Homo sapiens: one gene and its partner. The protein of the gene in region 1 purifies or fractionates together with the protein of each later gene. This does not show direct contact. Each region holds a gene or a part of one and is shown on either strand. Other genes may lie near its edges.

Region 1 (7,264 bases):
ATCCAACTCTAGCTCTTCAGAAGGGGGTGTACTCTCATTTTTAGGATAAGTAACAGCTGGTATTTTGGAAGACATGTATCTCTGCAAAATTGTTAAGTTATTTCTCTTCCTATGAAGGGTAAATGGCACCAAAAACCTGGTGAAAGGTCTGAAGAAATTGACACTAACACTCATTTTGAGGAAAGCAGCCATGTAACAAAACCCCTGTAAAAGAAGAAAAATGCAATTAAAAATTAGACAAAGATTTTTATAACTTCTCAACTAATTGTGCAAGTATAAATTTGAAATAGCAAAATAAAATCAATTTTTGAAACACAAGGTAAAATCTTTGTACCAATTTTTTTCCTAGACTCCTGTGGTCTACAGCCTGTGATCACTCATTGAGTAAAAAGTTTAAAACTTAGTTGGGTTCTTGGCCGGGCGCAGTGGCTCATGCCTGTAATCCCAGCACTTTGGGAGCCTGAGGTGGGTGGATCACCTGAGGTCAGGAGTTCAAGACTAGCCTGGCCAACATGGTGAGAAACCCCATCTCTACCAAAAATACAAAAATTAGCCAGGTATGGTGGCAAGCACCTGTAATCCCAGCTTCTCGGGAGGCTGAGGCAGGAGAATTGCTTGAACCCGGGAGTTGGAGGTTGCAGTGAGGCGAGATTGTGCCACTGCACTCCAGCCTGGGTGACAGAGTGAGATTCTGTCTCAAAAAAAAAAAAAAAAAAAGTTGGGTTCTTATTTTAGACATGAATTTCACTATTGCTTTAGCTAAAAGGATAAGTTGAAGATCCTTTTTAGATTTTTATCTAGGGGCCCAGAGAATCAATGTTACTGGGCAACAAAGTTATGTACCACCGAGGCAGCTGACATCATGATGCTGCATACTCCTCCATTCTACACTAAGCCCAGATACAGAACCAAACATAAGATCCTTCACAAAAGCAACAAATAAAGACAAAGGACATGAAAGGTACTGAGAATGGCAACAGGTAAAAAGCACTTAGAAACTGCTGTACCAATGCCCTCGTTACAGAAATATACCAAGATCTACTGATCAAAAAATAGCAACAAATTCTTCCCCAGTTCAGGCTTTATTTTGCAGCAAATAATGTTATTAACAAAGAAAATGTCCAAGATTGAGACAAATGTATATAAATGTATATAAAGCTCCACAGTTTTATCCTAAAAGCCTGGATGTCCATGAGATATTGAAGATGCTTAAAGATGTAAAACTTGTCTCAAATTTGAAGGAAAAGAAATAAAGGGAATTCAAATTTTTACAAAATGCAAATAAAACACTTGAAAAATTCCTTCTTCCCTTGGCTTCATTTAATGACCCTGCACAGGCTCCTAGGTTTCCTGCTCTCTGACCTGTGCACTGATGTCCAGATGCCCCTCCCTTAAAGGTGGATGTAACTCCGCATTCTATCCTATTCTTTTTTTTCAATCTATACATTTCCCTTCTGAGATGTGACCTACTTCTGTGGCTTCAATGACCATGCATTAGAAAGACATCTCAAATGCAGGCCGGGTGCAGTGGCTCACTCCTGTAATCCCAGCACTTTGGAAGGCCGAGGAGGGAGGATCGCTTGAGGTCAGGAGTTTGAGACCAGCCTGACCAACATGGCGAAACCCTGTCTCTACTAAAAATACAAAAATTAGCCAGGTGTGGTGGCGCATGCCTGTAATCCCAGGTACTCGTGAGGCTGAAGTGGGGCGATTCTTCTACTTCCCAGGTACTCGTGAGGCTGATGTAGAAGAATCGCTTGAATAAGGGGGGCGGAAGTTGCAGTGAGCCGAGATTTTGCAACAAAATCTGTTGCAGTGAGCGACAGAGTAAGACTGTCTCAAAACAACAAAAACAAACAAAAAACACCTCAAACGCAACAAATCGAAATAACCCCTCTACCTTTGCTTCACAATCTGATCCTCCTTCAATGTTCTGTTTCAAGGGATATTGCTATCCATTGGTATTGTTCCCAACATATATTTCTAAGCTTATTGCGGCCAGGTCAGCAGCATCTCTAGCTATTCTTCACCTCACACTTCAAGTATTCCACCATTACTTTTCACAGCACTCTGGTGCCTATGACAGTACTTCTAACACTGCACTGTAATTGCCTGGTTATCTATTTGCCTCACTAGATGGTAAGGACTAACTAGTGTCCATGAGGACAAGGACTTTGTCTATAATGTTAACATTGAATCCAATGCTTGACAGTATTTGGCTCACAGTAATCACGCAAATATTTTTCTAATACCCTAGATCGATGCTTCCTTCATTAAAAAAAAAAAAAAGAAAAAAAAAGTTCAGCCTCCCTTTATTATTTTTTTTGAGACGGAGTCTCGCTCTGTCACTCCAGGCTGGAGTATAGTGGCGCGATCTCGGCGCAAGCTCCGCCTCCCAGGGTTCACGCCATTCTCCTGCCTCAGCCTCCCGAGTAGCTGGGACTACAGGCACCCGCCACCACGCCCGGCTATTTTGTATTTTTAGTACAGACGGGGTTTCACTGTGTTAGCCAGGATGGTCTCGGATCTCCTGACCTCGTGATCCGCCCACCTCGGCCTCTCATTGTGCTGGGATTACAGGCGTGAGCCACCGCGCCCGGCTCAGCCTCCCTTTAAAGAGAAAACAATTTACTTTAGAATCCCGGAAATATTTAACTGGGGTCCCCAGGCCCCAATCTAATAAACATTGATTTCAGAAGGAGTTTTAAAAGTTTTATTCTTGTAACTGGCAAGGACTTAGAATACCACAGAAATGAAAACCCCAATTGTAAAAAGCAATCAAGTACATCATTTCAGGAACCACTGATTTTGTTTCAGGTACTGTACTAGTTATAGTTTATTAAAATCACTGGGCTTCCTCTTACCCGTGGGCCTTCCGAACGCACATGCTCCACTAAGTGCATCTTGGAACGTCTCCGGCGTCCTCCCACCCCCAACACACACATTAGGCGAAAGAAGAAACTCGCTTACCAGGAGTGCAGAGATAGTGGTTCCCGCTGGCGCAAAGAACAGGGACCCTGGAGGACGAAGGACTCCGACGTACGGACGCCCAGGGATCCGCGCCGAAGCTAGCACGCAGCCTACCCAACAGTCTACACAGCCGACCAGAGCGGTCGCTGGGGCTCAGCCGGAAGTTCCGCCCTCTCCCTTCCGGCGCTGCTTTTTACGTCACAGCACGCAAAGAACGCTTTCTTGGCTAAAAGAAGCGCCTTAGAGGAGACGGCTGTCAGTAGGCAACTGGGTACTCGAAGACTACGCTCTCAGTTGTCACGGAGTTGTAGCTGTGTTGTGTTGTGTTTTCCTCCATATATCCTAAAAACTTCTTCTGGGCCGGGCCAGTTGGCTTACGCCTGTTATCCCAGTGCTTTGGGCGGCCGAGGCGGGCGGATCACTTGGGGTCAGGAGTTTGAGACCAGCCTGGCCAACATAGTGAAACCCCGTCTCTACTAAAAATACAAAAATTAGCCAGGTGTGGTGGCGCGCGCCTGTAATCCCAGTTGCTCGGGAGGCTGAGGCAGGAGAATCGCTTGAACCTGGGAGGCGGAGGTTGCGGTGAGCTGAGATCGCGCCACTGCACTCCAGCCTGGGCGACAGAGCAAGACTCTCTGTCTCAAAAAAAAAAAAAAAAAAAAAAAAAAACTGTTTCTAATCCTCTTTTCAACCTACTCTCTGTTTGGGCCCTGTATTTATAAACATTTGCTGACAGAGTACTAAAATAAAGTATGTTTTTTTCACACGTCTTCTTACTCAGCTTCAAACTCCTTGACGCTAGGACTTTAAACTCCTAATCTTTTTGACCAGTTTATCACCAGTACCTGGCACTATGCTTGGAACGTGATAAGCCACGGTAAGTTTCTGTCTCCTCCTAGCTCATTTGGAAAGTTTAATGTGAAATGAAATTAAAACACATTTGTAAATTGGTGGCCTTTGGGGCCAATTCAGCCTCCACATATATTTGTAACCAAACACAGAATGAACATATTCTGCAGCCATTCTACTCCTAGTAATATACCCAAAGAAATTGAAAGCAGAGACACAAACAGACACTTGTACTCTAATGTCATTGTAGCATTATTGATAATAACCAAAAGGTGGAAGCAACCCAAATATCCATGAACAGATGAATAGATTAAAAAATGTTGCATGTACATACAATGGAATATTATTCAGTCTTAAAAAGGAATGAAGTTCTGATACATGGTACAACATGGATAAACTTTGGAGGCATTATACACTGAGATAAGCCAGGCACAAAAGGACAAATATTGTATAAGTCCACCTATATGAAGTGCCTAGAATAGTCAAATCATAAAGAAAGAAAGTAGAATAGTGTTTACCAGGGGCTGGGGAAAGGGAAGAATGGGCAGTTACTGTTTAATAGGTATGAATTTTCAGTATGGGATGATGAAAAAGTTCTGGAGATGGATAGTAGTGATGGTTGTACAAGAACGTGAATGTACTTAATGCCATTGAACTGTACACTTGAAAATGACTAAAATGGAAATGTTTATATTGTATATAGTTTACTAAAATAAAAGAAGGTAGGCATAGTCTTTTCCAAATGATTTTAAAAAACGAGATCTTGTCTAAGAGACTGATTACTATCATGTTAGAAAGGTGAGGTGGTGATAGCAAAATAATCATGAGTTTACTCCCAAACATGGAAAAAAATCAAGAATAAATATCGTCTAGTAGTTATAACAAATAGCAGTGTAGAGGTTATTTTTTCTTGTTCCTGTTCTTTAAAGAGATACATCTGAAGTTTTTCCATTAATATTTTATGAAGGTTTTTGCTATATGATCTTTGTCAAGTAAAGGAAATTTCATTCTGTTAAGTTTACTAAGATTCTTTATGTGAAAAATCTTTGGAAGTGTTTCTATAAATATAGCAGAACATAATTTATTCAATATGTCTGGGATCTGACCTATTCTAGATTAAGAATATTTCCAGGTTTCAGACATCTTACCTCCAACAAAAAGCACAGTGATTTTCAAAATACGTTTTTTTGTTTTTTTTTTTTGAGACGGAGTCTCGCTCTTTCACCCAGGCCAGAGTGCAGTGGCGCGATCTCGGCTCATTGCAAGCTCCGCCTCCCGGGTTTACGCCATTCTCCTGCCTCAGCCCCCGAGTGGCTGGGACTACAGGCGCCCGCCACCGCGCCCGGCTAATTTTTTGTATTTTTAGTAGAGACAGGGTTTCACCGTGTTAGCCAGGATGGTCTCGATCTCCTGACCTCGTGATCCGCCCGCCTCGGACTCCCACAGTGCTGGGATTACAGGCGTGAGCCACCGCGCCCGGCCTCAAAATACATGTTTTGGCATAGAAAAATAGCTTGTAATATGGGATGTAAGGTATCAAAAAAATAAAAAATAAATTGTAGGCCAGGAGCAGTGGCTCATGCCTATAATCAGCATTTTGGGAGGCCAAGGCAGGCAGATTGCTTGGGCTCAAGAGTTCCAGACCAGCCTGGCCAACGTGGTGAAACCCTCTCTCTACAAAAAATACACAAAAAAAGAAAAGAAAAAGAAATAAATTTTAAAAGCAAGGAAATATATAAAAACCCATAAGACAATGTCACATAAACACTAGAATTGAAAAACTAGAAGGTCTGAATGCTCTCTCTTGGCTCATATTTCTTCTTGGAAACAATGGTTAGACCTAAATAAAGGCTGTTTTGTAGTCAAGGCACCCACTCTCCAGTTCCCCAGAGCTTATTCCACCACATGTTATCTTTTCTACACTGGTGCAAATGTCATTTGCCATGTATTTTGCCTGCACTGTTTATTATATAATAGAGAACGATTTCTCTATACCAACGTCTCTTTCAAGAGTTGGAAGACAAAGCATGGATTCAAAGATTTAGGTGTTACTTACAAAGTAGAGAACTCTTGTATTTGATTCTCTGCTCTACCTTCAATGTCTACAACAGTGCTTGGCAAGTATCGGAAACTCAATAATAATTTGCTGATGAATGAATACTAAATAGATCAGGTAAGTGATGTTAGTGGCTTGGACAACAGTGGTGGCAGTAAAGGCAAAGAAAAGGGGGAATATTTGAAAGATATTTAAGAGCTGGACATGACAGAATTTGGTGATCAATTTGGGAGAGAAGGAGAGGAACAAGTCAATAGTCTGGTTTGAGCACCTGGGCAGACAGTGAAAAGGAGTATATGGTGTGAGGGCAGAGATGGTAAGTATAGTGTTAGACATGCGGCTTTTCATCTCTCTTCAAAATAGCCAAATGATATCTCCTTTAGGATATTTGGCAGTTGGCTGTATGGGTCTAGAGTTTAGGTGAAAGAAGAATGCACCAAAGATACATATTTGAGAGTTATTAACATAGAGTCTGTGAAACCATATGGGTGGAAGAGATTACCTAGGGCTTGGGTAGAGAACAGGAATGGACAAAAGAAACTGAAAATAAGCAGCTAAAGAGATGGGAGGAAAACAACCAGAATATGACATAGAAATCAAGGAAAAGGTGTTTTCAAAGACAAGTGGATGGGTAACAGGGTCAAATATTGCCTAGAGATCATGCAATGCAGACTGAAAAGTATCTACTAGATTTAGCAATACAAGGGCCACTGGGACCTTCATTGTGAGGTTTGGGGGCTTTAGCCAGATGAGAGTGAATAAGGAATGAGGAGATTATGAGAAAATAGAATCAGCAAGTTTAAACATTTCTATGAAATTTGTCTAAAGAAAAGACAGCGTGCTCAGTCCCTGGATGTGGAGTCCAGGAAAATTTTCTTCATTATTATTATGTTAGATTGGGAGAGGCCTGACATTTTAAATGCTGTTAGAATCATCAGCAAAGGGGTAAGAGAAAGAAAGGATAATGGGATGGGTAGACTTCCTGAGAAGATTAACAGAGATGGTATATAGAGGAGAGATGCTATTTAGAGGAGAGATGGAGAGATTGGTTTCGTATAAGAGGAAGAAATACCACTTTCATTGTAACAAGAAGAAAGGAAGAAACTTAAGGTGGGTATGGAGGACAATTTATAGACATGATGGCTATAATTTGATACAGTTCGCATTCTCTGTGAAAGAGGTAGACAGACTACCTCTGCGGATACTAAAGATTGGGTGAAGGTTTGTTATTGTCATAAAGAATAACATATAACAAATGTACAGAAACAGAAAGTAGAATGGTTGTTACTGTGGAGTCCTAATTAGGGAAAAGGAGTCAGGCTGGCGGGACCAGAGGAAAGCAAAGAGATAAAGCAAATAAGCTATAAATATGCCTGTCTTCACGGTTCA
Region 2 (3,384 bases), on another chromosome or scaffold:
GGCCTCAAAGGTTGGTTAAGTGCAGCCCCTGCCAAGAAGGCACGCTTCTGTAATTTGCCAGACAGTCCTCAGCCCCAGAATGCCTCTGGGAAGGAGACAGAGCAGCGCGTGGCAAAGCAGAGGCGGGGAGGAGGAGGAAGCGGGAGGCCCAGGTAAACCTCAGGCCACACTTGGGCCAGAGGCAGGGTCCAAAGGCCGGCGGGAAGGCAGCCAGTCCCAGGAAGGCAGCAGGCGCACTGCCTGGGGCCCTGCCTTCCTCCTCCGGGTTCCGCAGTGTCCTGCGGGCTACCAGAGAGGTCCACGGCGGGCGGTGGGGCCAGGGGAGCCTGGCCGAAGAGCAGAGGCCCCCACGGCGCCCTGTGTGTGGAAACCTCCGGATGGCCGCAGGGGGGTGGGGGGAGAACCAAAGCCCTGGGATCGCCGGGGGAGGGGCGGGGGCTTGGCTCGGGCTTGGGAGGAGGATGATCTGGAGGAAGGCCTACAGCAGCTTTCCATTCTTTCAGCCCTGAGCCCCCGAGTCTCCGCCTCGCATCCGTTCGGGCGCGGTGTAAACTCCACGCCTGAGCTCCACGAGACACGGCGGGGCGGAGGGAGGAGGGAGAGACCAGTCCACACACAGGCGTACCTTATTATATAGAATTTGTACAATATATTTCTTTTCGTTTGCATATTTTACCCACAGCTTAACATCCTTTTTACAGGCTGAACTCACTCAGGCTGATAGAATCAAAATTCTTTCAACCAAATAAGAAAAATTCAAAATCGTAAACCCGTAAGAAAACAAATTAAAAACGGTGATGAAAATACGTCACTCCTCTCGTTAGGAACAGTGTCTGTTTGTACAACAGGTATGCTCTGGAACAGGATTTCTTTACAGCGTAGGCACGTGTTTCCACCTTTGCTCTGCGGGCTTCGCCTCCTCCGGGCCTGGGGCTCCTGGAAAGCGCCGGGACGCGGCGGCTCTGGCTCGGCAGCGCCACCCGGTGGCCGGAGACAGAGGCGGCCGGGCCGAGCCGGGAGAGCAGCCGCGGGTGCGAGCGGACTCAGGCTTGTTTCCCGTGAACTGCAGCGAAGATCCCAGAACAGCAAGGGCAGTGGGCGGACAGGTGCTCTGGGGAGCCCAGCGTTTATTTACAGCTGATCTTCCTGACGGGAGGATGGAGTACAGCGGCGGCCACTGCCATAGGGGAGGTGACTCCGGCCCTACCGCCCGCTTTACTCGGAGTCTGGGGTGTGGAGGGGCGTGGGTGGCGCTATCTCGTCTACCTTCCAGGTTGGCTGTGAGTCTGAGCACGCAGCGGGGCCTCCCTCCCAAGCACTAAGACTTGTTTCCTGTGAGTCCCCTCTTGGGAAACTCCTTACTGGGAGGCCTCCTCGGGTCTGAGGGATGAAGAAGGTGGGGCCTTCTCTGGGGTGGTGCAGGCAGCTCCCAAAGCAAGGTAGGTTTGGCAAAGAGCAAAAGATGGGAAAAGGGTTTCTACGGAGCCAGCAGCACCTGCCTATTCAGGTCCCAAGCCACAGGAACCAGGCCAGGCCTTTCCACCAGGGCAATGGCCTCAGTCCTCAGGCCACCAAGTTCCAGGACCTGCCCCATGTGTTCCCGTCTCCCTTAAATCCCACCCTCCACCCGCCCCGGGATGGTTCTACCAGAACTCTGGGGCTTAGCTGAGAACCCAATTGTAGGGCTGTGAAGCCCGCTGCACCTTGGAGTCCTGACCCAGAAGGCGAAAGTGCTCTTATAGGAAGATGCTTCCAGACCTGCAGACTTGGGCCCTTGCAATCCAGATCCCTGCAGACCCTGCACAGAGGGATCTTCAGAGGCCACGGGGCACACTGGGCCATGGCAATGCTGACCTGGTCAAGCTTGGCCTTGGTGGTGGGGCCCCTTCTCTGGCTCTGGCACTGTGTGGTGGGACGTGCTTCGGCCCAGACACTGCCCCTAAAGGCATGCTCCAACCCCACGGGTCCCACTAAGGCCGGCACGCAGCCCACACGCCAGACTTGCTTCATGTTCCCAAGCGTGGCTCTGGAGGGAGAATCATCATCGGCACTCCAGGGCAAGACTAAACCCATCAAAAGAAAAATGTAAAACAGCACTGACTAGAACTAATGTCGTTATTGCTACAAGTGACAGCCAAACAGCCACGCAGAGTCCCAGAGGTGGGTATGACAGACTACCATGACTATCAAGCAGAAATAAAATTATGTGGGTTTTTACTCTTAAAATAAGATATCCTCTGATCATCTTCACGGTACATAAGCTCACGCGTGCTCCTCACATTCTGCTCCTTTCACAGAATGGTCAGTCCCCGGTCATGCCCTCGAGCCCCTCCAGGGAGACAGTGTGGTTCTGCTCTAAAAACGTGAGGTGGAAACTGAAATATGTCAAAACAACAACTGAGGAACTGCGGCTGTGCTGCCTGGTGCATGAGCAGACGTACAGGGGCGCCTGCCGGCTGTCCCCAAGGGCACTTGTTCTCCTCAAGGAGTTCTCTGGGAGGGTGCGGCCGTGCAGGGAGCTAGCTCGATGCCTGGTTCTGTACTGGATGCTTGGGGATCACTGGTGGCTAGGAGGGGCTCTCGCCAGTTTTGGTTTGGTGTGAAAAGCAAAGAGGTGCTCCCAGGCTGGGCAGCCACTGGGGGTCTTGCTGGAAAGGTGGATCTGGGTGGACTGTGCCTCCCTCTGAAGGCAAGTGCAGGCAGTTCCAGCTCCACGGAGACAGAAACCAGTTGAGAGAGGCCGCTTCCAAGTCTTCCCAGGCCCACGGCTCCTGCAGTGACAGCCTCTGGAGAAGGCTGGTCTCTGAACCTTCTTAAGGGCCCCCTGCCCACCCTTTCTGAGGCATTCTGCACTGCTTGGCTTATTTTCACCATGCTACAGCCTGTGCTTGTGTCCAGCCTACGCACGGGAGCTCTTGGAGACGTGGCTGCTTGGCATCCTAACTGGAGTGGTCAGCTCAAGGAGAGCTGGGCACTGGCGCTACAGGAGTTTTCCTGAATGAGGTTAGATGTCTGCTCTAAAATCCCTGTGGCAGATGAACTAGTCCCATGCACGCCCCACCAAGGGCTAACACTCCACATTCCAGAGGCGGGTGGCCTTGTTTGGGTAGTTGATGGCCAGGCTGATGGCAGCAATGTTCTGCAGAGCCTGTAGAGGGAAAAAGAGTTGTCGCCAATGTCGGGAGCCACTCCCTCATTCAGTGAGTGCTGATAAGACCCTCAGCTGAGCACTGAGGATGTGGGGACGGAGGAGGGGAACCAGATGTGTTCCCCTCCCCCACAGGCCTGCAGAGTGGAGAGAGAAAAAAAATGCTATTAAGAGCACATGAAAGCTCCAAATGTAGGTAGGAATCATCACTGCCCAGAGGGGCAGTCCCAGGGCGG

What was found.
Region 2: the proteins of TRMT10C (region 1) and ZZEF1 purify together in Homo sapiens (affinity purification with mass spectrometry; 3 studies listed by BioGRID and IntAct, with this or other methods). This does not show direct contact.

Annotation. Positions count from the first base shown.
Region 1 is NC_000003.12:101,557,710-101,564,973, reverse strand, and holds the start of TRMT10C (tRNA methyltransferase 10 homolog C precursor), read right to left. Parts: upstream 3,107-7,264; 5' UTR 2,971-3,106; intron 205-2,970; 5' UTR 193-204; coding exon 1-192. UniProt on the Homo sapiens protein: Mitochondrial tRNA N(1)-methyltransferase involved in mitochondrial tRNA maturation. Component of mitochondrial ribonuclease P, a complex composed of TRMT10C/MRPP1, HSD17B10/MRPP2 and PRORP/MRPP3, which cleaves tRNA molecules in their 5'-ends.
Region 2 is NC_000017.11:4,003,823-4,007,206, forward strand, and holds the end of ZZEF1 (zinc finger ZZ-type and EF-hand domain-containing protein 1), read right to left. Parts: intron 3,149-3,384; coding exon 3,068-3,148; 3' UTR 623-3,067; downstream 1-622. UniProt on the Homo sapiens protein: Histone H3 reader which may act as a transcriptional coactivator for KLF6 and KLF9 transcription factors.